7 linked regions of the Homo sapiens genome follow. The protein of the gene in region 3 purifies or fractionates together with the protein of the main gene of each other region. This does not show direct contact. Each region holds a gene or a part of one and is shown on either strand. Other genes may lie near its edges.

Region 1 (3,500 bases), on a different chromosome or scaffold from region 3:
TTTTGATTTGTTGGAGAAGCCCTGATCCAAAATTAGCAAATTAACTCAGCGAATGATGAAAATAATCTTTGTTGCTATTGGAAGGGGGGTAAGGCTGTGTGTGTGTGTGTGTGTGAGTGTGTGTATGTGTATGGATGGTGATGGGAGCTGGCTCTATTGAGTCTTTGACTTGAGGCTTTGGAGTTGGTTCGGTTCTGTTTGCAGCTTGAAACTGGAGTCTGTAGCCCTGAGTTGGGGGCCTTGTTTTCCAGACCTCAGCAGAACAAGGACTTTGCCTATCTCAGTATGAAATCAGAGAGTGGGGACAGATTATGTCTAGAGTCTTTTCAGCTATAATTTTCCAGTGCTCTCTGACAAGTGGCATAGTGCAGATGTTTATGGGCATGGCTAAAGATTGAAGGTGTTAACTGAATCATGTGAATTCAAAGCCATTTGGACCAAGAAGAATAGAAAAGAGGCCTTCAGGCTGGGCATGGTGGCCCATGCCTGTAATCTTAGCACTTTGGGAGGCCGAGGTGGGCAGACTGCTTTATCAGGAGTGCAAGACAGGCCTGGGCAACATAGTGAAATCCGTCCCTCAAAAAAAAAAAAAAAAAAAAAAAAACAAAAATTAGCTGGGTGTGGTGGTGCGTGCCCGTAGTCCCAGCTACTTGGGGGTTGAGGTGGGAGGATGGCTTGAGCCTGGGAGGTCGAGGTTGCAGTGAGCAGAGATCACACAACTGCACTCCAGCCTGGGTGACAGAGTGAGAACCTGTCTCAAAAAATAAATAAATAGAAAATAAAAAAGAGGCCTTTAGGAAACATTAACTGCCTCCAACGGTTTACACTTCCCAATAAACCAAAGAGGATTTTAAGATCTGGAGGTGTGGGGGAAAGACAGATGGTGGAGAAAAAAGATTTGCTTACAACCAGAAAGAGTGAGTCCTAGATCCATGACCAGTGAGATTTGCTGGTGGGCCCTGATACACTGGCAGGAGGCGCAAATAAAAGGGAATGGGCTTATATTATGGCAAAAGGAGTAGAGATTAGCATTAAGGAGAAGGCTGCCATTTTTCTTAGATAGTAGATTGTCTGCTAAGTGAAGTTATGAGATGCTATGGAAATTTATAGTCACTCTCTGGGGTTACTACCCAAGTTACTTGACTCACAGTCCATGCTTTTTCCAGTACCTTGCCATGGTGATTTTTTTTTTTTTTTTAATATGGAACACTTCACGAATTTGCATGTCATCCTTGCCCAGGGGTCATGCTAATCTTCTCTATATTGTTCCAGTTTTACTATATGTGCTGCAGAAGTGAGCACCACGGTGATTTTTAAAAAGCCTAGTTTTCAACCCAGATTATGTGGAAATTGACAAAGTAATTACTAGTACTTTCAAGTCCATAATTTTAGATAATTGTTCCCCTGTGATAAGCTGGGTTTTAGGTTGGGATTTTATCATGTGGAAAGATTTTGATTCTTCACTATGTAAGTGTTTTATCAGGACTGATGATAGATTTTTTGAGTAAAGAGACACACCTTGATTGGAGAGTACCACTTCCGGGGGGAAGAAGGCCGACGCATATTGTTGTTGAGATTTCGCGGCTCAGGGAATTCATATTCCTGCTCCGGCATCTTGACTCTTGCATTCTTTGCCTTTTCCAACTTAGCACCTTCTTCTGTGGAGCCCTTTTCTCCCCAACGAACCTAAAATAAACAAAATACAATGAAATGAAATGACAAAATATGCTGCCCCTCGAGAATGAGAATGACAAATACATGCATGAGTTGCAATGTGAATGCTACCCAACCCTGGATTCCTTTGGGTTTTGAGGGCCAGGGAAGAGGGAAACTGTGGAAAAAGAGAAAAGGGGAGGACCAAAGGAGCAGAGAGCTGAGCCACATGGGTGGATATTTAGGGAGGAATTGTCCAGGCAGCGGGGACAGCACATGCAAAGACCTTGCAGGTTCAGGTACGAACTTTGGATTTTATTCCAGTGAGAAAAGAAATCACGAGGACGTTTGAGCTGATGTGTGACCTGCTCTGACTCACGGTGGGCAAGACATGGAAACGCACAGTGAAAGGCTGTCCCTCCTATCTCTCCATCCGTCTGCCTTACAATCCATATCCCCACCAGACCTCAAGGAGGTTTTCAGCAATTTGCTTTGGGTTTCTGACATTGAGTCATCAGTGTGGTCTACGGCCATACTGCCCTGGGCATGCCTGATATCTAGAGGCTAAGCAGGGTCAGGCCCGGCTGGTACCTCGATGGGAGTAGTCAGCACATAGATAAGTGTATATGAAGCTGTCCTCTTACCTCCATTCTTTTAATGCCTCCAACGCCTCTCCCACCATAATAAGAGGCGTCTACCGTTGGCCACTTTTTCTTAGGCAGACCATCATCATCTTCTTCCTGCAGAGAAATTGTGGCACATGAAGGAAGCAAAACAGCACTGCTGTGTGGACCTGCCTACTACAGCCAAGTGATTAGGAGTAGAGCTTATAGAGTCAGACTGCCTGGGTGCAATCCCAGTGCTACTGTTTCCTAGAACCTTGGGCCAATCACTGAAACCACCTAAGCTTGTTTTCCTTATCTGTAGAGTGGGAATGTAAGCAGTGCTACCTGGTAAGTTTGTGGTACAGTCCTGTTCTCTTGTTCTCTTCTACAGCTCTACTCCTTTGTGGGAATCGCATCTAACCCCACCTACATGCTAATGACTTGTGACTTTACATCTTCAGCCCTGATGCTTCTGAACTCCAACTGCTCACTTGACATTCACATTATTTGGGGGCTAAAAAACATCTCAACAACACCACAGCAGAGATGTCCTGATTTCCCTACCCTAAACATGCTCCTCCTGTAGTCTTCCCCACTGCCTCTCTCTTCTTTACTGCCTCTCCCCAACTTGTCCCAACTTGCCAGCTAGTTCTGTTGCTACTACTTAAAGATCTAAAATCTGTTGACTTCTCCATCCCCACCACCACTATCCTGGGCCCAAGCCCCCATGCACTTGCTCATGGACACTGTGGTAGCTTCCCAACTGGCCTCCTGCTGCCCTAAGACTCACCTATGATCTGTTCTCCACAAAGCAGCAGAGTAAGTGCAAACGCCAGCTCTGCCCTGTGTGTTCTGGCCTTTGCTCACCTTTCTGGCCTTCTTCCTTATCATGTGCCCCCCTCCTCCTGAGCTCCAGCCTGCCTGCCCTCTCTCAAATACTCTGGGCAAATTCCTGTCTTGGGGCCTGTGCACAGTGTCCCCTTGTCCCCTTGTCTAGGAAAGCACTTCCCCCACCCCATCTTCTGATGGATGGATTTTCATATTACTCCTCAGAGAAACCTCCCCTGGAAATTTCTTCTAAAGTAGCCGCGGTCTCTTCATTCCATCAATCTGTTTTATTTTTAGTTAAGGATCTCATCATGGCTTGATATTTACTTAATATCTGTCTCTCCACACTAGAACGTACGTTCCACAGAGGCTTTTGTTTGTCATGCTTACAATTGTATTCCCAGTCTTTAGAAT
Region 2 (3,500 bases), on a different chromosome or scaffold from region 3:
GCTCTGACCCAAACGGTGCCCCTGGGGCACAAGAGGGTGAGTGCTGGGCAGCAGGAACAGGGTAGGGCTAGAGGAACCTGGTCACTGGCTGGGTAACAGGCTCTGGGGCGCCCCACAAAATGTCTCTAAGCTGCTGCACTGGGCTTCCACACAAGCACGGTCCTCTGTCTGGCAAAACCCACTCCAACACCCACCCCATGCGCTCGAGAGCCCTGTGTGCCTTCCAGTGTGAGGAGAGGGAGTGCAGGCTGAGAGGACGGGAGGGGCCTCGCACCAGAGCCACAGGGCGGTACCCCACATGGGGGCCAAGAGGGAAGTCACAGCAGAGGACCCAACTCAGGGGTCACAGGACTTTCCCCATCAGCTTCAGCCTCATAGCCACTATGAGCAGAACCAGCAGGACCCCAGGGCACCCCCACCCTGGGGGGCCTACAATCAGCAGCTGGGCCCCCACGGGCCCCAAGACCACCAGCACCCCCCGCCCCCAGCCCAGAGCCTGAACATCTGGCTTATTTCACAGAGGGAAGCTGAGGCTGCAGGGGATCCCCTCCCAGAGATCACAGAGCCAGGGAGGGGCAGGACTCCCCACCACTCCCAGGGCAACTACCATGGCAGAGATGGGAGGCCCCCTTCCTAACACTGGGCACCGGGCTGAGAGCTGCAAGCCCTGGCCAGCCCCCGGCCCAGCCCCACTCGCGGGCACACATGGGCTCAGGGGAGCTGCATCGGCACCAGCCTCTGGTGCCGGTTATGCACCCCAGGACCCACCACTGCCCACTGGGCCTCTGGGGTGTCCAAGTATCCCCACCCTTCAGTCTCTCCGGGAGCTTCCTCCACACCAGGCCAGCCTGGTGCCCACCCCAGCCCAGGCAGCTCCCCTCCACCCACACCCTCCAGGAAGCTCTGCACTGCCTCTGTCCAGCCCACTGTTCTGGGGAAGGAAAGGAGAACCCTGAAGACCAGACAGCCATCCCTGTAGCACCTAGCCCTCCCCCTGCCACCGTGGGGCCAGCCCAGGGCTGTGTGCTGGAGCTCCTCAAGCACCAGCCAAAGACAGGCAGGGGCACTACCCTTGCCCTGCCCTTGGCCCAGTAGAGGGGCTGGGGAGAGGCAGGGCCAAGGCCTCTGGCCCGGCAGAGTGCTGAGGCAGCAGACACTGGATCTCCTGGCTGGGGAGCAGGGCCCAGAGGGGAGGGGGCCGCGCAGGCCTGCCCTCACCACCCACACACAGCAGCCTCCCCAGGAGGTCAAGTGCCCTTGGAGAGCCAGCCCCCGCCTCAGCATCCCTGGGCCCCTGCACAGGCTCCTGCGTGGTCTCAAAGTGTCCTTGCTTAGTGGGCCTGGGGCCAGTCATGGGCAGAGGCACAGAGGGGAGTGGGGCCCTTCAAGGTCACTGGGCCTAGTGTAGGGCAACATTCCCCCTGCCCCCTGTACGCCAGATCTAGCCTCCCACAGCATACAGCAGCACTGGGCCTGCCACCTGGGACGGCCGCAAGCCTTTGTTCCTGCCCCAAGCCCCCTCCTCACCCCACCCCACCCAGGCCTGACCTTGCGGATGCGGCCACTTCGCGTGCCGGCGAATACCACAGTGCGGCCCCGATAGTCATAGGCAGCCACGGCGGTCAGGCCATCATCCTTGTCCACGAACAGGGGCGTCCCCTCAATGGTGACTGTGCCCCCCAGGGGCTGGTTGAAGTCCTGCCCGCAGAAGTCGTCATCGATCTGCAGGGGCTGTGGGAAGGGGCAGGGTGAGAGCCACTCCCCGGGCACCTTCTCCCGGAGGACTGGGCCTCCCTGGGCAGGGCTGGGAGTGCAGTTGTCTTTCTAGAGAGGTTGGGGGTAGCCCCCAGAGGAGAGGTGCAGACAGAGAGGGTTTAAGACAGGAGGGAGCAGATCACACCTGAAAGGCAGAGGGCGGGCTCCCAGCTAAGAGCACGAGAAAGCAATCAATAGCTTGAGGTTCCGGAGCAGCTGGGGGCCAGTGTGGAGGGGGCGCTGCTCCACCGCCAGGCCTAAGGAGAGGGCAGGGCAGGCAGGGAAGGGATGTGGGGAGAAGTGGGGCAGATGGTCCTTGTCTGCAGAGGGTTCATTGGCAGGGGCCAGGCTGCTCAGGAGGAAGGAGCAGGGGAGGCTGGGCCAGGGCTAGGCCACATGGAATGAACAGGTGGGAGGGGGCAGTGGGGACTGTCCCCAGGGATGAAAGAGCAGGCCCCAGCCTTGGGGCAGGGCACAAAGAGAGAGTGTGGTGGGGCTTCACCCAGGCTCTGCCCCTACAAGCCTCAGTGTCTCCATCTGTATGGTGCAGAGAAAACACGTTCCTTGAAAAGCCAAGGGGAGGGTGGACAACCGCATCTGCCAAGCACACATGGGCCCTGCCTCACACAGGCAGTGAGCGTGAGACGGAAGGACTGAGGGGCCCTTGCAGTCCCACTCTGCCCTGAGGACAAAACCAGCAACACCCTCAGGTCAGACATGGGAGACTACAGCCAGAGAGGGCGAGGCCTTCCCCTGCGATGGCCAGCGACCCCCAGCAGCAAGCCCAGAAGGCCTGGCCTCGGGGGTCCCAGGTCTGGGCCGAGTCCCAGCCCCTTCACTTTCCACCCTAAGCAAGGCCCGTGCCCTCTGAGCCTGCCCAGGAGTGTGAACAAGACACTCCCTGAAAGGCAGCGAGATAGAGGCCCCACCCCAGCTGTGCCTTCTGATGGGTGCTGGGGGCTGTGGCTCCCTGCAGTCAGGGTCACTTTCTCTGCAAGTTGTTAACTGTGGCCTGCACCAGGACACCATCAGCTCCCATTGCTGGGCAAAAGCAGAGGCCCAGCGGGCAGGTGCCACCAGGGTCATGTGGGGGACACAAGCGCTCCATGGAAATGGTGTCTGGGCTCACCTGATAGGCTCTGGCACCAGCCTCTCACTTGCTGTGTGACCCAGGGCAAGTTACCCCACCTCTCTGATCCTATAACCTCATTTGTAGGATGGGGACAAGATGGAGCAGGCAAGCACCAGGTGTAGGACCAGGCATGTGGCTGGCACTCTGTCCAGTGTCCCACAGGGGCTGTGGACTATGCCAGCAGGGCCTCGTCACCCCATCTTCTGAGGCACAAGACAGCATCATGGCTGGGAGCAGCCTTTGGGGCTAGCACCCTGGGTCCAAACCCACTCTCTGGGGGATGGAAAAGGGCAGCCCCACCTAGCTGAGCCATGGGGATGGCCAAGCCAAAAGCCAGGCCAGGCACACAGCAGGCACCACTGGGCGTGCATCTGACACCGATGCCGTCGTCCCTGGAGGGGATGGGGCCGCGGGAGGAGGGGCGCCCCTGCCCAACTCACCGAGTTGATGCAGCCCAGCTCCTTGTTGAGCAGCCACGGCAGGGAGAGCTTGCCCTCACCACGGTAGCAGGACTGGATGCGCTCCTTAATCTTCTCCTTGATGGCCCTGAGCGTGAACAGGCACAGTGCTGACTCCTTTGGTGGCTTCACGCGGTTCTTCTGGCCCTGGGCGA
Region 3 (3,500 bases):
TCTCCTAGGTATTAAGCCCAGCATGCATTAGCTATTTTTCCTGATGCTCTCCTTCTCCCCAACCCACAGTAGGCCCCAGTGTGTGTTGTTCCCTTCCCTGTGTCTATGTGTTCACATTGTTCAGCTCCCACTTATAAGTGAGAATGTGTGGCGTTTGGTTTTCTGTTCCTGTGTTAGTTTGCTGAGGATAATGGCTTCCAGCTCCATCCATGCAGCTGCAAAGGACATGATCAGATTCCTTTTTACGGCTGCATAGCATTCCATGGTGTATATGTACCACATTTTTTTTTATCCCACTGACCTTCTATTATGAAAAATGCCTCCACTTTTGCACAGCCAAGAACACTGCATGCCTGGCAGGTGTAGAGGCCTTCGTCCTCCTTCCTCACTCTGCGGATAGTGAGGTTCCGGTTCCCATCCTTCAATACAATGCCTAACAGAGGAAGAAAACGATCATTCTCATTTATGATGATGTAGTCTGTGAAGTTTTTCAGGGAAATTTAGAAAATATAAATGCTGCCCTTCATCTTGTTCTATTATCTAACTCTGTAGAGTCACATGGGATCTACTGCTGACTAATCTCCTATATGGCTTTCATGAAAATTCAACAGGGCCCCATACTCCAATTCTAAGTCTGTGAAATGAGCCAGGTCATGGACACCAATACTGCTTTTTTTCTACATTACATCAAGAAATAATATGGCTTTTTAGATAACATCCCTGGGAAAGTTCTGCAACCCAAGAGTGATAGCCAAATTCTATTTACCTGAGTCTTCTACAAGGGTCTCATTATCTTTAAACCACATGATCTGTGGAGGGGGATTCCCAGATGCCGTGCATGAGACTTCGATGCTTTCCCCAATACTTGTCGTCTGATTCTCCAGGTTTCCTGTGATCGTGGGTGCCACACGCTCTAGACACACAAAAAGAAAATCACAGAACATGGAATTATAACTTTTGAAATGGTTCTGGTATCAGCAAACTTTTAAACAGTTTAAATTTAGTAAAAAGGAACTTGTTGATATATTAACTTCTGGGAAAATACACTGGTCACTGGGTAAAGTTAAATGAAACAAGTCAGTCAGGACACTGCAAACAGATTAATGGCTTTTAACATTCATATTAGTGATACTAGCTGGTAATCCCATCACAAAAGAAAGGTTCAGGGTCACCTTTATGGATTTTTCCTCTAATTAGACACAGCCTCCCCAGGTGAAAACTTCCCTCCCATGAAGATTCTAGTCAATAATACCCTAGAATCCCTTCAAATTTCTCTTGGAAGTGCCAAATTTTAGTATCATTCAACCAATAATGCCTTACATTTATTTGGCAATTCTTATAAAACTTGTTTACACAATTTGTGTTCCTCACTAGTGATCTTATGTAATGAGCAGAATAGGACTGTTAGCGTTATCTCACAGATGAAATAAATGATGTTCAGCGACATTAAACCACTTGTCCATGTCCCTGCAACTAAGTAAACAGTTGAACTGTTTACAGAATCTGGTGAGGCTAAAAGACCAGTTCAGTGCTATTTCCACTAAAACACAAACAAAACAACAATACCCTAAGGGAAGTCTTGGATTTAAAGAAAATGAAGCCCATGAGTATTTGTTTAAGTGTACAAGAACACTTTAGATTTATTCTTTCTTCAGATCATCAAAGTGCTGTGGAAATATCTTGTCCCAACCAACTGAACATCAAAAGGAATCATGCTGAAAAAATCCACGTCAACACTTAGCAAAATGAGATTACCTCAACAGCGTACTACATTGAAGTCTAAGCAAATGTACTGGATTCTAGCCTATTTCTAAGAATAGGTTTTAGGAAAACAAGTTAGGAGTCCTTAGGGAAGCAAAGCAGCTAACTGCGAGCACATATTTTCTGGGCACAGCTAGGCCAGGAGCCTACTTCACATCTCTTTCTCAATTCTGCCATAACCTTGAAGCCAGACAAGCCAACAGAAAATCCATGTGATCTATGTGGTGTGACTTGAAGGATGCTGGGGATGACTTGACCCCAAAGTATCTCTTATTATGACACCTGAGTCTTAAAACTAGCGAACTTTATGCTAGTGTCTGTCAGAAGGTGCCTCTTCAAATACGCCAAGGCCTCTGATGAAGACGTTACCCTCTAAAACTGTGGTATAGATGAATTTACTTGGGCAATTTCCTTCCTAACAGTAAAAAAAAAACAGAGGGCACATATATCCTAGGAATTGGAAAGGGACACCACAAGAGGAGAAAATGGAGAGAAGTGGCACAAAGAGACGCTCCCCAAATTTGCCTGATTTTCCCACAGACAAAGCCATGGCTGCCCAGCTTTTGCACAAGGCATGAGGTTAGACAAGGGGTAGACAGTGCCTCTATGGAGGAATTTACAGAGCTATCTGCTCACTGAAGTGATCGTCCCATTGACCTTGGGCTACGCTGGATCATGTGGGATGACCCAGAGGTACAGACAGTGAATGTAGCTTCCTTCCCATGGAGTCTTCTAGGTCTTAAACGCAGCCCATCATCCCACTCTTCATGCAGCAGGTGCCTTATTGAGCAGTTAGTATATGCTGCTATGCTCTATGACTAGAGCTATAGCAGGGAGCAAAACAGAGAACAATTCCTGTTCTCATGGACACAGAGACCTCACTGTGCTGTGACTTCCCAGTGGTTGCCTATGTTCTCCTCCTTTCCTTCATGTTTACCACTGTGAATTTCTGACACTCTCCTAGCTCATAGCAGGCATTCCACAAATATTTGTCTATTTAAATAAATGGATGCCCAAGATAAGGCAGAAGTTTCCCTGGTTCAAGCTAATATCCCTTGCATATACTAGTGAATTACTCCATCATCAGGTTTTGTTATTTTCTCCTTTCGATATATCATTTCATTATTATTAGCTTCTTTCTTCCTCAAGGACTTTCGGTGAAGAAGTGTGCACCAGTTTACAACATAATCTCCTAGAGGACAGTAATCTTTGCATAGCACCTGAATTGCACTACATTTAAGGCATTCCAACTGCCTCTGCACAATGATCCAGAATTGTCTCCCTACCTAGGACTGTGAGCTGCCTGACCACGCAATGTCTTTTCTTGGTCTTCCTGTCTTGAGCAAGGCAGACATAGTCTCCTTGGTCCTGCAAGGATGCATTCTTAAGCTCCATGATCAAAATGTCATTTGTGCTATTAGAGAACATGGTGGCATTCAATTTCCAAAGAGTATCCAAGTTCTTGCAAACAGGTGTGGGCAACTCTCCCACATGGATTGGCAGAGGCTGTGGGCCAAGCTTGTACCATGTGAGGTTCTCAAACGTAGATCTGTCTGCAGTGCACCACAAAGACACGCTCTCCTGCTCAGTGGGCTGCATGTCAGGTTGCAAAGTAATTTCAGGACCCCCTAAAATGAAGAGGCCATAGTTATTGAATGGTGATTTAACTTGGTACAGCTCACTATCATCTTGCTGCTTTCAGACTACTACAAAGTACCAAAAGAAATGAAGCTCTATCC
Region 4 (3,500 bases), on a different chromosome or scaffold from region 3:
AGTTACTTCAATGAAGAATAAAAGCAAATTTTCCCTGCCTTAAAGCTCCGACTCATTTCCCAATACAGGTATACCCTTGTTACATTGTATTTTTTACAAATTAAGCATTTGTGTCATGAACTATGCCCATTAAAGATGGTAAACTTTTCATCAATAAATGTCCTGAATGCCCACCAAACAGCCTTTCCCTATTTCTCTTCTCTCTCCTCAGGCCTCCCTGTTCCCTGAGACAAAACAAGATTGAAATTAGGCCAATTATTAACCCTACAATTGCATCTAAGTGTTCAACTAAAAGGAATAGTCCCCATCTCTCACTCTTCTTTAAATCAAAAGCCAGAAATGATTAAACTTAGCGAGAAAGTCATGTTGAAGGCCACGAGAGGCTGAAAGCTGGGCAGGCCTTTTGGACCAGCCAAGCTGTGAGCACAAAAGCAAAGTTTTTTGTTGTTTTTCAGCTTCTCATTCTCTGGCTGAAAAGTTCTTGAAAAAAACTAGAGGTGCTACTCCAGTGAACAGATGAATAATTTAAAAAGCAAACAGCCTTATTTCTGATATGGAGAAAGTTTTAGTGGTCTCTATAGGAGATCAAACTAGCCACAACATTCCCTTAGGCCAAAGCGTAACCCCAGAGTAAGGCCCTAATTCTCTTCAATTTTATGAAGGCTGAGAGAGGTCAGGAACCAGAAGTCATGTTTGAAGCTAGCAGTGGTTGGTTCATGAGGTTTAAGGAAAGAAGCCATCTCCATAGCAAAAATGCAAGGTGAAGTAGCAAGTTATCCAGAATATCTAGCCAAGATCGTAAATGAAGTTGGCTACACTCAACATTTTCAGTGCAGACAAAACAACTTCCTATTGGAAGAAGTAGTCATCTAGAACTGATAGCTAGAGAGATAAGTGAATGCCTGGCTTCAAAGGACAGATGGACTCTCTTGTTAGGGACTAACACAGCCAGTGACTCTTTTTTTTTTTTTTTTTTTTTTTTTTTTTGAGACAGGGTCTCCCTCTGTCAACCAGGCAAGACCGCAGCAGAGCTATTATAGCACACTGCAGCCTTGACCTCCCAGACACAAGATTCTCCCACCTCAGCCTCCTGAGTAGCTGGGACTATAGCACGCTCCACCATACCCAGCTAATTTGTTAATTTTTGTACAGACAGGGTCTCTGTATGTTGCCCAGGCTGGTGTTAAACTCCTTGGCTCAAGCAATCTTCCTACCTCTGCCTCCCAAAGTGCTGGAATTGCAGGCCTGAGCCACTGCACCTGGCCACTGGTGGCTAAGTTGAAGCCAGTGCTTCAATCCTAGAGCCCTTGAGAATTATGCTAAATCTACTCTGCCTGTGCTCTAGAAATGGAACAACAAAGCTTGGATGACAGCGCACCTGTTCACAGCATGGTTTACTGAATATTTTAAGCCCTCTGTTGAGAACTACTGCTCAGAAAAAAACATTCCTTTCAAAATACTACACCCATTGACAGTGCACTTGGTCACCCAAAAGCTCTGATGGAGATGCAGAAGGAGATTAATGTTTTCATGTTTGCTAATAAAACATCCATTCTGCAGCCTATGGATCAAAGAGTAATTTCAACTTTCAAGTATTATTTAAGAAATACATTTTTTAAGGCCCTAGCTACCTAGGTTCCTCTGATAGATCTGGGCAAAGTAAACTGAAAACCTGGAAAGGATTCACCATTCTGGGTGCCACTAAGATCATTCATGATTCATGAGAGGAAGTCAAAATATCAACATTAACAGGAGTTTGGAAGAAACGGATTCCCACCCTCATGGATGGCTTGGAGGAACTCAGGACTTCAGTGGAGGAAGTAACTGCAGATGTGGTGGAAACAGCAAGAGAAGTAGAATTAGAAGTGGAGCCTGAATATGTGACTGAATTGCTGCAATCTCATGATCAAACTTAAACGGATGAGCAGTTGCTTCTTACGGATGAGCAAAGAAAGTGATTTCTTGAGATAGAATCTACTCCTGGAGAAGATGCTGTGTATTGTTGAAGTGACAACAAAGGATTTAGAATATTAAATAAACTTAGTGGATAAAGCAGCAACATGGTTTGACTCCAATTTTGAAAGTTCTACTGTGGATAAAATGCTATCACACAGCATCACATGTTAGAAATATTTCGTGAAAGGAAAAGTCAATCGATGCAGCAAACTTCATTATCTTATTTAAAGAAACTGACAGAGCCATCCCAACCTTCAAGCAGCTACCATCCTAATCAGTCAGCAGTAATCAACATCAAGGCAAGAACCTCCAACAGCAAAACGATTATGTGTTAATGGCTCAGATGACCATCAGCATTTTGTAGTAATAAAATACTTTTTAATTGAGGTATGTACATTGGTTTCTTCTTAAGACATAATGTTATTGCAGACTTAACTATAGTGTATTATATACAACTTTTATATGCAATGGGAAACCAAAGTATTTGTGTAGCTCTCTTTATTGGGATATTTGCTTTATTGCAGTGGCCTGGAACCAAACCCACCTTCGAGGTAGGTATATAAACTACTAGAATCCACATGGGATCTGAAAATTCCCAACGGTTACATCTTGAAAGTTCATTTTGAAGTATGCCTAGTTAGTTAATAAAGCAAATTCAATTAAAATACATCAACTTTTTATGAGCTCCCCCGTCCCACCCTCACTTGCCTAATATACATACTATTAAAAGGGATATGGTTCAGTGAGCCAAGTATGACTTCATATGTAAGACAAAACATTTATTTTATAAATAGCTATAATCTAATTTTCATGCTGGTGGCATGTACCCACCTGTAGAGGAGTTCGATATAACCACTTCTCTTTATCAACTTTAAGCTGCATACAGGCAAAGAGATCACAAACTGCAGGGAGGCCATAATGGTCTGGGGGGAAGTTATGTTCCTCCTGTAGAGGTGAATTAAGTAATACTTCCTGCAATAAAAGAAAAGAGTAGGTTGCTTCATGAAAACAAGGAGGCATGAGACCAACTTATCTTCCAAATAGGGTCTACAGAGAATAATTTAAATGTTGGCCATTCTCTGTAACAACCAAAAACAAAGGTGACAATTGTTATTTCTACCCCAAATATTTTCCATAAATAGCAATAAAACAGGCTAGATTCTTTTCTTTCCTGAAGGATGGGGCTTAGGCCTGGAAAATGCACAAAAAAATCATAAATCCTCCATTCCAAATTTAGTATTTAACATATTTAAGGATCTGGCTGGCCGGTTTGCAAGGTTTGGGATTATGAAATATGAAACTCTAGGCTGGGTGTGGTGGATCACGCCTGTAATCCCAGCAGTTTAGGAGACCAAGACGGGCAGATCGCTTAAGCTCAGGAGTTCAGAGACCAGCCCAGGCCAAAACCCCATCTCTACCAAAAATACAAAAAATTAGCCAGGCATGGTGGTGCACACCTATGGTCCCAGCTACTCAGGAGGCTGTAGTGCGGGCAGGGGGATGGCTGGAGCCTCGGAAGGGGAGGTTGCAATGAGCTGAGATCG
Region 5 (3,500 bases), on a different chromosome or scaffold from region 3:
GAGCTCACATCCTGCATCCTGCACATGAACTGGCTAAGGGCTGCATTGCAGATTGGAGGCAGGGTTGGGCCTGAACCTCTGGCCTCTACTTTTCCTGTGAAGCCTCCCCGCCTCCCAACACCTTCCATCCCCTTCCACCCACTGTGTCTTCTCCCCACCCTGCCCAGCACTGACCTGTGATGGTGAGGATGCAGAGTAAGATGGCTACCACTGCCTGGATGCTCACGCCCACCTGGGCGGCCATATCCTCGCAGAAGGTGAACTCGCCCTGCTCGTTGCACTTGCACACGGCCACGGTCAGCGTGCTGGTGCCCGTGCGACTTGGCATCCCATTGTCTGAGATGACCACGGGTAGGAAGTGGACCTTGGTATGCTCCCGGTCAAACTGCCCATACTTGACTGTGATGTTGGCCGTGTTATCTGGAAACACCAAGGCCTCGGAGTCAGGCTTTGCCATCTGCACAGATGGGGAAACCTGGCTCCTCCAGGAAGCCCTCCCTGACTGCACCAGCCTGCGTGCTCCCTGGGCTGCTTTTCTGCCCTTTGCACCCAGCGCCTCTTGTTTCAGCCATCTGAGTGCAGGTCTGTTCCGCCACAGAGGGGATATTTTGGGGCAGCTGCTTTGACCCAATCTCCAAGGATGCCTTGGTGAAAGAAGGTCAAATCCTTTGCTTTCTGTATTTGTGGGCAACTGATGCCTCTCCCCTTCCTCTTCCCTAACCCCACTCCAGTAACAGGAGGTTTTCTCTTTCAGCTCAATTAATTAATGCTCCGTTTCAAGCTTTGACAAGCAGCGGGGAAAAATAAAGTTTTAAAAAGTCTTTTAGCATTAGGCTAATTTCTAAGGCAGCTTCTGCTCTCTCTGAAAATCCATTGTTACATTGTTGAAAACAGTAAAAACAATGGACATGTCCCTTGGGGCACAGAGAAAATGATTACATATAGAATTGCGGGTTTCCCAGGCAGTTTGGAACTGGGAAATGCTTTTGTCCAAATATTGGCCCCGCCCACCTTCCCAGATCCAATCAGTGGTTTCCTGTACCCAAGAATCCCCCAGGGAGCTTTTAAAACATGCTGATTTTCAGACCCCTATGCTCACACACACTTCTTATTCAGTGGTTCTGGGCAGAGGCCAGATAATCTGCCTTTTGCAGGGTCCCAGGAGGTTGTAATGTCAACGATCAGAGAAGGATCCAGGAACTCCCTACTCCAGGATTTACTTAGCTACACAGGCTCCACACACTGGATTGAAAAACCCAGGAATCCATCTTTTCGATTTTGAATGAAAGCCAATTATATTTCATTATTCATAATTACATTTCAGCATTAAGTCTATTATATTTCAAAATAAACTATATGTCATTGACACTTATGGGAGAAACTAGAGATTTTGACATGCAGGATGTTCATGATATAAGTGAATTTGACACCAACAGACTTGCCTCCTATTGTATATGGGTGTCTTTGGGGTGGCACTGAATCTTTCTACTGTATTGCAGATCCCCACTCTGAGATGGGACTGAGGTGGACATTGGGGAGGGGGTGACATTTTTGCCACATTATTTACTTCTAATGACAACTGGGTGTTGAATGGTCTGTCATTGACTGTCAACACATCAGGGCCACCTTCTCCATCCCACAGGAGTCTCCTTAAGGACTGGTCTGTGGTTGATCCCTCAAGTCTGCCTCCAACTTTCAGGGACCCCACTCCCCAGTCTTCCTTAAATGTAGTAATGGGCTGCTGCAATACAGCCATCCTCATCCACCATAGTTTTGCCCATTAGGGACAGGCAGGAATTCCATCCCATGCTAGGTGAAGGATCACTCTATTTAAACCCAAGGGGAATTTTCTCTATTTTTTTGAGGAAATTTCAGAGGCCATGGAAGCTTGCCTACTTGTGGCTGGAATGAAGTCAACTCAGCATCATCACTTAAGTCAGCACCTACTCCTCAGAAGCTCTGATTGGCTGCTAATGCCATCACACGGGCCACCCTGCTAATCGTGAGTAATCGTTGTAGCTGAATTAAAACAAAGCTCACTGGATCCTTGGGATTTAGGATTTCACATTTCCAGTTTTGACTCTTTGGGAATGACCTCAAAGTTCCATGTTTAATGTGCAGTTTTGCTGACCCATAGAGCCTCCAGTATGGGAGGGGACTCCTTGGCTAGTTCTTGAACTGAGCTGACTGCCTGCATCCTCACATCTGTTCTGTACTCCTCGCTGGCTCCTTGCAGGCGACGTGGACTTGGGAGTTTGGATGGAGTGTCTCTGACCATTGCATAGACCAATTGTACAATGTATGTGGCAGAAATTGTACAAAATATCTAATGATTTGAAAATCCCAGTGGGAGCCTGCCCTCAATTTGTTGGCCTGGTCTTTGACCTTGGTGCCTCAAGACTCAAATAACCTCACCCCGACCCTGTTAGAGCCAACTGACTGCATTTGTTCTTTTTTTGGAGACGGGGTCTCGCTCTGTCGCCCGGGCTGGAGTGCAGTGATGTGATCATAGCTCACTGCAGCCTCAAACTCCTGGGCTCAAGCGATCTTCCTGCCTCAGCCTCCTGAGTAGCTGAGACTACAGGTGTGGGTCATCACGCCCAGCTGAACTGATTACTTTGATGCCTACCGTGATTATCCGTGAGGGTAAAGTTGTTCTCAGTATTCAAGATGAATTTGAACTTCACGTTTCGTGGTGTTATGTCCTTGTCTATTGCGGAGATCTGCAGGACCAGCTGGAGTGTGGAAGACAGGAGATGGTCAGTGATGGTGGTGGGGTGGTGGGGTGGTCTGAGGTTTAGCGATGGAGCCTTTGGGTTTAAGTCCTGACCATGGCTGTTTCCCACCTGCAACACTCACCTATTTAGTTCTTCATAAAGCCATTCTTTCTACTTCCCTGCCCCGCCAATCTACTCCCCATATATTCCCTCTGAGCCTCAGTTTCTCCATCTGTAAAATGGGCATAATGTTATTTTCCTCAAGGCTATTGTACAGGGGAACTCCTGCTGACTCTGTTGAGCAGTTCTGCCCCCCAGCCTGCCCCAGGGTGGTGCTGCCTTCCCCTCCCACCTGAACCAGACTCACCTGGCCATGGACAGCGTTCTCACACACTTTGGGCTGGTAGGGCTTGGCAAACTCCGGGGCATTGTCATTCTCATCCAAAACTTCAATGTGGACTTGCACAATGGATTCTTTTCCTGTGGGGGTTCCTGCAGGGGAGAAGACTGTCACCATTATGGGCTCAGCTGATGCTGGCCTTGGGCGGTGGAAGATGTGTGGAAGGAGGGCTGCCCTATGGAGGCCACTTTTTGCAGGAGGAGGCTGTGGAACAGAGGCCCAGGATGGTGTTCTGGATAAAAGGAGTTTGGTGGGGGGAGGTGTTAAATCTCATCCATAAGGTTTACTGAGGTATTACTTTGATTATGAGAATCAAAAAGGTAAACCACCTAAGTGCATTAAAAAAATTGTAATTAAATTCCTAAAATTAAAAATTTAATTAT
Region 6 (3,500 bases), on a different chromosome or scaffold from region 3:
AAAAGTGTCAATGTCAGGAAAGACTGAGGAACTGTCACAGACTGGAGGAGACAAGAGACACAACTGCTAAATCTAATGTGGGACTTTACTTGGATTCTGGAACAAAAAAAGAATGGTAGGGAAAAATGGTGAAATTTGAATAAAGTTTGTAGTTTACTTAATAGCATTGTGCCAGTGTTGATTTCCTGGTTTTGATAATTGTACTATAGTTATGTAAGTTGTTAACATTAGGGTAAAATGAATGAAGGGCATATATATACACAGATGAACTCTGCACTATTTTTGCAACTTTTCTGAAATTTAAAATTATGTCCAAATAAAAAGTTTTTTAAAAAGAAAAATATAGGCTGGGTGCGGTGGCTCATGCATGTAATCCCAGCACTTTGGGAGGCCAAGGCAGGCGGATCATGAGGTCAGGAGATAGAGACCATCCTGGCTAACACGGTGAAACCCCGTCTTTGCTAAAAATACAAAAAATTAGCCAGGCGTGGTGGTGGGCGCCTGTAGTCCCAGCTACTGGGGAGGCTGAGGAAGGAGAATAACTTGAACCTGGGAGGCGGAGGTTGCAATAAGCCAACATCACGCCACTGCACTCCAGCCTGGGTGACAAAGCGAGACTGTGTCTCAAAAATAAAAAAATTAAAAAAGAAAAGAAAAGAAAAATATAGCATCTTGTACAAAGGCCAACTTTAGATTCATCCCTGTTAAACTTTATTCAATCTCTTTAGTTTTTTTTTTTTTTTTTTTTTAAGACAGAGTGTCTTGCTCTGTTGCCCAGGCTGGAGTGCAGTGGCGCAATCACAGCTCACTGCAACCTCCACCTCCTGGGCTCAAGTGATCCTCCCACCTCAGCCTCTGGAGTAGCTAGTACTATAGGCACGCACCACTACACCCAGCTAATTATTTTGACCTTTAGTAGAGAGAAGGTCTCACTATGTTGCCCAGGCTGGTCTCAAACCCTTGAGCTCAAGGTATCCTCCTGCCTCAGCCGCCCAAAGTGCTAGGATTACAGGCGTGAGCCAATTCAATTCCTCAAACTGAGAAGTAAGAACCATACAATAAATAAGCAAATAAGCAAAGATCATTTAGAATAAAAGATTACCTAAAGCAACGTCTGAATCACATTATTTTTAAACCCACTTATTCAGGGCTCACACATTTCTCCAACATTTTGGCAGAAGAAAACTTTATGGAAGATAAAATTCTAGTTACTCTGAGTAAACCTGATCCTCATCCCTGAACTTAAATATGAGTAGTGAAGCTGGCAATAATCACAACCCAAATGATACCATAGGTTGGTCCCAAGAGGCTCAAAAATTAATAGGCCAAGAAATGGATAAAGGAGTTACATCTTTGTATATCTACATCTTTGAATCCTTGCAATCCTCATTTCCTCTCCTTTTCCTTCTTGGGAGAAAATTTCCATTTCTGTACTCCTATACCAAGAAATCCAAACTAAGAGGGACATCCTGGCCGGGCGCAGTGGCTCACGCCTATAATCCCAGCACTTTGGGAGGCCAAGGTGGGTGGATCATCTGAGGTCAGGAGTTCGAGACCAGCCTGGCCAACATGGTGAAACCCCATCTCTACTAAAAATACAAAAATTAGCCGGGTGTGGTGGTGCACGCCTGTAATTCCAGCTACTAGGGAGGTTGAAGCAGGAGAATTGCTTGAACCTGGGAGGCGGAGGTTGCAGTGAGCCAAGACTGCACCACTGCATTCCAGCCTGGGTGACAGAGCAAGACTCTATCTCAAAAAAAAAAAAAAAAAAAAAGAGGGACATCCTTACTTACTAGTATTGTAAATACTACAAATATTCAAAAGATCAAATTCTTCTAGGGTTTGAGTTCCAAACGACAGTACAAAGGATGTATGCTCACTGTTAACCATGACTATCTGTGGATAAATGGATGGGAGGCTCTTTAATTTTTTATTTTACACATTTTGTATTATTTGACTTTTTATAACAATCACATATCATTTTAAAATAAATTTATATATATATATGGCACAATGCCAGTCAATCATTAGTTATTTTAAACTAAATAATAGACTTTTAACAATTCAACTATAAACTGTTAGCAATTCAATTTCATTTGAAATATATCAAACTCAAAAGCCAAGAGTAAGGAAACTCTTGCCAATTGTCATTTAACATCATTTACTAAAAGTGTACTTTATCTAAATAAAGTCAGTGGAATGGTTTTGTGCCACCAGAGAGCACACAGCAACTGGAGGACGTGAGTTATCCACATAGTAAAGAAGTGAACATTTGTTTCCAAAGCAGGGTACCAACATGTGTGAATTCCAGTACAGCAAATAGAATATTTAATACCGAAAGTGTGTGGTATGGAGGAATCAGCAGATAAATGTTCTGGGGAGAGATAGCCTTTTGGCCTCCCATGACATGGCAGGGGGAGGGGGGAAGAGAGAGAGAAAGAGAGAGAGAGCGTGAGCTACTTCATGGATGGATCACCAACCCCACTTGCTATGCACCTGACCAGGACCACACCTTCTCCAATGGGAGCGGTGGGAGCCTCACTCCTCATGCACAAAGGGGAGCTCCCTGAATGATATCCCAAGGGGTGTCACCAGATCCAAACTTGCCCGTCATAATCCCATCTGTTATTCATATTTGCTGTCTATATTTTCTTTTGGTCTTCCCTTCCTTTGTAACAAAGTTCATTGTAAAGATCCCATTTCTTGTCTCAGCTATGCTAAGACAAGGAGATGGGTGGATAGGGAGGATCAGGTCATTGCTACAACACTGCAAAAGCATCTGACAGTCACTTACCTACTTGGTCATCTGTATATTCTGTATCTAGATATTTCATTTGTGGGTTTGTCTGTTTGTTGGAAAAGACTTTGTGTCAAGGTGCTAGTAGACTGAGCCCATCTTACACAATCACTTATTCAAAAATAAGGATGTCTATTCAGTGTCTACCATGTACCAGGCACTGCTGAGCATTATATACTGTTCCAATATTTAGAATCTTTATTACTCAGAGGCCACAGTATGAAACAGATTGGTTTGAAACATCAGGGTCTGGACACTAGGCCATTAAATGGCACCAGAATAGACACTCATTAAAAGTTTTCCTCCTCTGGGTGGGCATAGTGGCTCATGCCTGTAATCCCAACACTTCGGGAGGCCGAGGCCAGTGGATCACCTGAGGTCAGGAGTTTGAGACCAGCCTGGCCAACATGGTGAAACCCCGTCTGTCCTAAAAATACAAAAATTAGCTGGACATGGTGGCAGGCGCCTGTAATCCCAGCTACTTGGGAGGCTGAGGCAGGAGAATTGCTTGGTCTCACACTCCTGGCCGGGGATGAGGAGGCTTCAGTGAGCTGAGATCGCGCCATTGCACTCCAGCCTGGGTAACAAGAGCAAAGCTCTGTCTCAAAAAAGTTTTCCTCCTCATCTAAAGAAGTTAATATGTTTTTCGAAGTGGAAAGAGACTTGGAAGGACTTTCTTACTCATTGTGTAGCTTTAGATCCT
Region 7 (2,884 bases), on a different chromosome or scaffold from region 3:
GGTTGTTTGCCACAAACTCATCCACAACAGCTGTGCCGGCACAGTTCAACATGGCCCCTGGCTCTTGGTATGCAGTTATTATCTAGTGAAAGCATTCGCTTTATTTTTTTTTTTTTTGAGACAGAGTCTCGTTCTGTCACCCAGGCTGGAGTGCAGTGGCGCAATGTTGGCTCACTGCAACCTCTGCCTCCCGGGTTCAAGCGATTCTCCCACCTCAGCCTCCCGAGTGGCTTGGACTACAGGCACCCGCCACTATGCTCAGCTAATTGTATCTTTAGTAGAGACAGTGTTTCGCCATTTTGGCCAGACTGGTCTCGAACTCCTGACCTGAGGTGATCGACCGCCTCAGGCTTCCAAGGTGCTGGGATTACAGGCGTAAGCCACCGTGCCTGACCCCCAAATCCAAATTTTCTAAAAGCTAAACCAGTAGGAATAGTTTTCTCCATCTGTAAGTATTCAATAACCAACACATCATTTGTTATAATAATAGTCCTGAGGCATTACAAGATGTTATAAGTTTATTCTGAATCTCATTCAATTGTGTTCAATGTGGCTCAATTCTTTACAAATTAAAATTCTTGAATATATGTTAAAAATTAAACAATCTTAATGTTTCTTCCTTAACTAGACTGGATACACGTCTGTTTAACTACGCAAAAGGTAATGCTGGCATGGCTTACTGGGACCCTAAGTGTGGCGAAGGGACTCTGCTCCAGTGAACTGGCGAGTGTGGAACCTCCTGACACCTTCTGAGGACCTCCTGCCTGCCATGTTGCTGTGGAGCTCGCACTCCTCAGGCATCCCCTGATGTTGAGTGATACAAACTCTATCACCGGAATCGATGCTGCTGCAATGACAAGACTTCTTTCTGGTTTTCAGATTCTAAAGTTTAAAACAACGACAACAACAGGAGCGCTTGAAAGTTACGGTGCTTCTCCCTCTCCAGTGTGGACTCGCTGATGTTTGGAAAGATTGGACTTGCTACAGAAGGTCTTTCCACAGTGATGACACCAGTAGGGCTTTTCCCCGGTGTGGATTCTGTGGTGTTTATTGAAGTTGGAGCTGTGGTTGAAGGCTTTCCCACACTCCTTACACTTATATGGCTTCTCTCCGGTGTGGAGTCTCTGGTGGGAGCTGAGGCCCGCATGCTGACTGAAGCTCTTCCCACATTCGTTACACTGATAAGGCTTCTCCCCAGTGTGGATCCGATAGTGACGAATGAGGCTGCCTTTCCCGCTGAAAGCCTTGCCACAATCTTTGCACTGATATGGCGCCTCTTCTGTGTGCATTCTCTGATGTTTAAGAAGGTCTGAGCTCTGCCCAAAAGCTTTTCCACACTTACAGTCATAGGGCCGGTCCACCAAGTGTGTTCTGTAGTGGAGGGTGAGGTTTGAGCTGTGGCTGAAAGCTTTCCCACACTTGGTGCACACGTAAGGTTTCTCCCCAGTGTGTGTTCTCCTGTGTTTGGTGAGATTTGAGCTATTACTAAAGGCTTTGCCACATTCAGCACATATATAACGTCTCTCTCCTGGGGTAGGTTTAGTAGGAACTGATTCTCTACCTTTCTTGGAGCCTGCCTCTTGAAGAGGGGGTTTTGTTCCTTTTTCATTTTCAAGGTTTACGCACTGCCTCTCTAAGCTGGCCTCAGGTTTATTGGCGATAATCACAGAAATTATATCCCCTTTGAGCCCCTCTGCTTCAGAACCTTTCTGCTCATCTGCTGATTCCTCGTGCTGGGTACTCAATCTGCAATCTGAAACAATAAGCAGATTAAGGATACTTCAGTTGTTTCTTGTTCTGAGGAAGAAACTGTTACCAGAGAGATAGAACCATCAGGTGAGACTGATGGTTTCTGAAGGGTGACTAAACAGAGCTCATGATAGCGCATAGATACAAGTAAATCAGCATCCAATCTAGTTTACAATACTGCACTTCTTTTTTTTTTTGAGATGGAGTCTCGCTGTCAGCAGGCTGGAATGCAGGTGACCTCAGCTCACTGCAACCTCCAACTCCCTGATTCAAGCGATTCTCCTGCCTCAGCCTCCAGAGTAGCTGGAATTACAGGCACGTGCCACCACACCCAGCTATTTTTTGTATTTTTTTTTAGTAGAGATGGGGTTTCAACATGCTGGCCAGGATGGTCTTGATCTCCTGACCTCAGGTGATCCGCCTGCCTCAGCCTCCCAGAGTGCTGGGATTATAGGCATGAGCCACCAGGCCTGGCCTCCATACCACACTTTCACACAATTCCCCACCCGAAGCTATTAAGATGTGAAGAGAACGTGGCTTTTTCTGCCAGAAAAACAGCTTCACATACAGAAGGCAAAATGCAGCATATGAGAGTGGTAGCCGGGCACAGCGGCTCACGCCTGTAATCCCAGCACTTTGGGAGCTGAGGCGGGAGGATGGCTTGAGTCTGGGAGTTCAAGACCAGCTTGGGCAACATAGGGAGACCCCATTTCTACAAAAAGTTAAAATAAAAAAATTAGGTGGGCATGGTGTGCCCCTGTGGTCCCAGCTACTTGGGAGACTGAATAAGAGGATCACTTAAGCCTGGAAGGTCAAGGCTGCAATGGGTCAAGACTGCAGTGAGCCATGATTGTGCTGGCCTGGGCAACAGAGTGAGACCCTATCTTTAAAAAAATATTTATTTTATTTATTTATTTTGAGACGGAGTCTCATTCTGTTGCCCAGGCTGGAGTGCAGTGGTATCATCTTGGCTCACCGCAGTCTCCGCTCCTGGGTTCAAGTGATTCTCCTGACTCAGCCTCCCGAAGAGCTGGGACTAGAAGCACCTGGCACCACGCCCAGCTAATTTTTGTATTTTTAATAGAGATGGGGTTTCACCATGTTGGCTAGGCTGGTCTCAAACTCCTGACATCAG

What was found.
Region 1: the proteins of KDR (region 3) and ANTXR1 purify together in Homo sapiens (co-immunoprecipitation; one study listed by IntAct). This does not show direct contact.
Region 2: the proteins of KDR (region 3) and PLXNA1 purify together in Homo sapiens (affinity purification with western blotting, with the first as the bait; one study listed by BioGRID). This does not show direct contact.
Region 4: the proteins of KDR (region 3) and NCOA4 purify together in Homo sapiens (affinity purification with mass spectrometry, with the first as the bait; one large-scale study listed by BioGRID). This does not show direct contact.
Region 5: the proteins of KDR (region 3) and CDH5 purify together in Homo sapiens (affinity purification with western blotting; 3 studies listed by BioGRID and IntAct, with this or other methods). This does not show direct contact.
Region 6: the proteins of KDR (region 3) and SCUBE2 purify together in Homo sapiens (affinity purification with western blotting; one study listed by BioGRID). This does not show direct contact.
Region 7: the proteins of KDR (region 3) and ZSCAN21 purify together in Homo sapiens (affinity purification with mass spectrometry, with the first as the bait; one large-scale study listed by BioGRID). This does not show direct contact.

The regions. Positions count from the first base shown.
Region 1 is NC_000002.12:69,180,679-69,184,178, reverse strand, and holds part of ANTXR1 (anthrax toxin receptor 1 isoform 1 precursor), read right to left. Parts: intron 2,394-3,500; coding exon 2,298-2,393; intron 1,687-2,297; coding exon 1,519-1,686; intron 1-1,518. UniProt on the Homo sapiens protein: Plays a role in cell attachment and migration. Interacts with extracellular matrix proteins and with the actin cytoskeleton and thereby plays an important role in normal extracellular matrix (ECM) homeostasis.
Region 2 is NC_000003.12:126,989,615-126,993,114, reverse strand, and holds part of PLXNA1 (plexin-A1 precursor), read right to left. Parts: coding exon 3,328-3,500; intron 1,732-3,327; coding exon 1,549-1,731; intron 1-1,548. UniProt on the Homo sapiens protein: Coreceptor for SEMA3A, SEMA3C, SEMA3F and SEMA6D. Necessary for signaling by class 3 semaphorins and subsequent remodeling of the cytoskeleton. Plays a role in axon guidance, invasive growth and cell migration.
Region 3 is NC_000004.12:55,101,596-55,105,095, forward strand, and holds part of KDR (vascular endothelial growth factor receptor 2 precursor), read right to left. Parts: intron 3,390-3,500; coding exon 3,048-3,389; intron 914-3,047; coding exon 767-913; intron 434-766; coding exon 302-433; intron 1-301. UniProt on the Homo sapiens protein: Tyrosine-protein kinase that acts as a cell-surface receptor for VEGFA, VEGFC and VEGFD. Plays an essential role in the regulation of angiogenesis, vascular development, vascular permeability, and embryonic hematopoiesis.
Region 4 is NC_000010.11:46,006,624-46,010,123, forward strand, and holds part of NCOA4 (nuclear receptor coactivator 4), read right to left. Parts: intron 2,929-3,500; coding exon 2,788-2,928; intron 2,590-2,787; coding exon of another isoform or gene 2,524-2,589; exon of another isoform or gene 2,501-2,523; intron 1-2,500. UniProt on the Homo sapiens protein: Cargo receptor for the autophagic turnover of the iron-binding ferritin complex, playing a central role in iron homeostasis. Acts as an adapter for delivery of ferritin to lysosomes and autophagic degradation of ferritin, a process named ferritinophagy.
Region 5 is NC_000016.10:66,397,691-66,401,190, reverse strand, and holds part of CDH5 (cadherin-5 preproprotein), read right to left. Parts: intron 3,210-3,500; coding exon 3,085-3,209; intron 2,736-3,084; coding exon 2,630-2,735; intron 421-2,629; coding exon 175-420; intron 1-174. UniProt on the Homo sapiens protein: Cadherins are calcium-dependent cell adhesion proteins. They preferentially interact with themselves in a homophilic manner in connecting cells; cadherins may thus contribute to the sorting of heterogeneous cell types.
Region 6 is NC_000011.10:9,085,100-9,088,599, forward strand, and holds part of SCUBE2 (signal peptide, CUB and EGF-like domain-containing protein 2 isoform 4 precursor), read right to left. Parts: intron 1-3,500. UniProt on the Homo sapiens protein: Lipid-binding protein required for SHH long-range signaling by binding to the dually lipid-modified SHH (ShhNp) and by promoting ShhNp mobilization, solubilization and release from the cell membrane.
Region 7 is NC_000007.14:100,062,657-100,065,540, reverse strand, and holds the end of ZSCAN21 (zinc finger and SCAN domain-containing protein 21), read right to left. Parts: intron 1,754-2,884; coding exon 924-1,753; coding exon of another isoform or gene 890-923; 3' UTR 754-889; coding exon of another isoform or gene 629-753; 3' UTR 501-628; downstream 1-500. UniProt on the Homo sapiens protein: Strong transcriptional activator. Plays an important role in spermatogenesis; essential for the progression of meiotic prophase I in spermatocytes.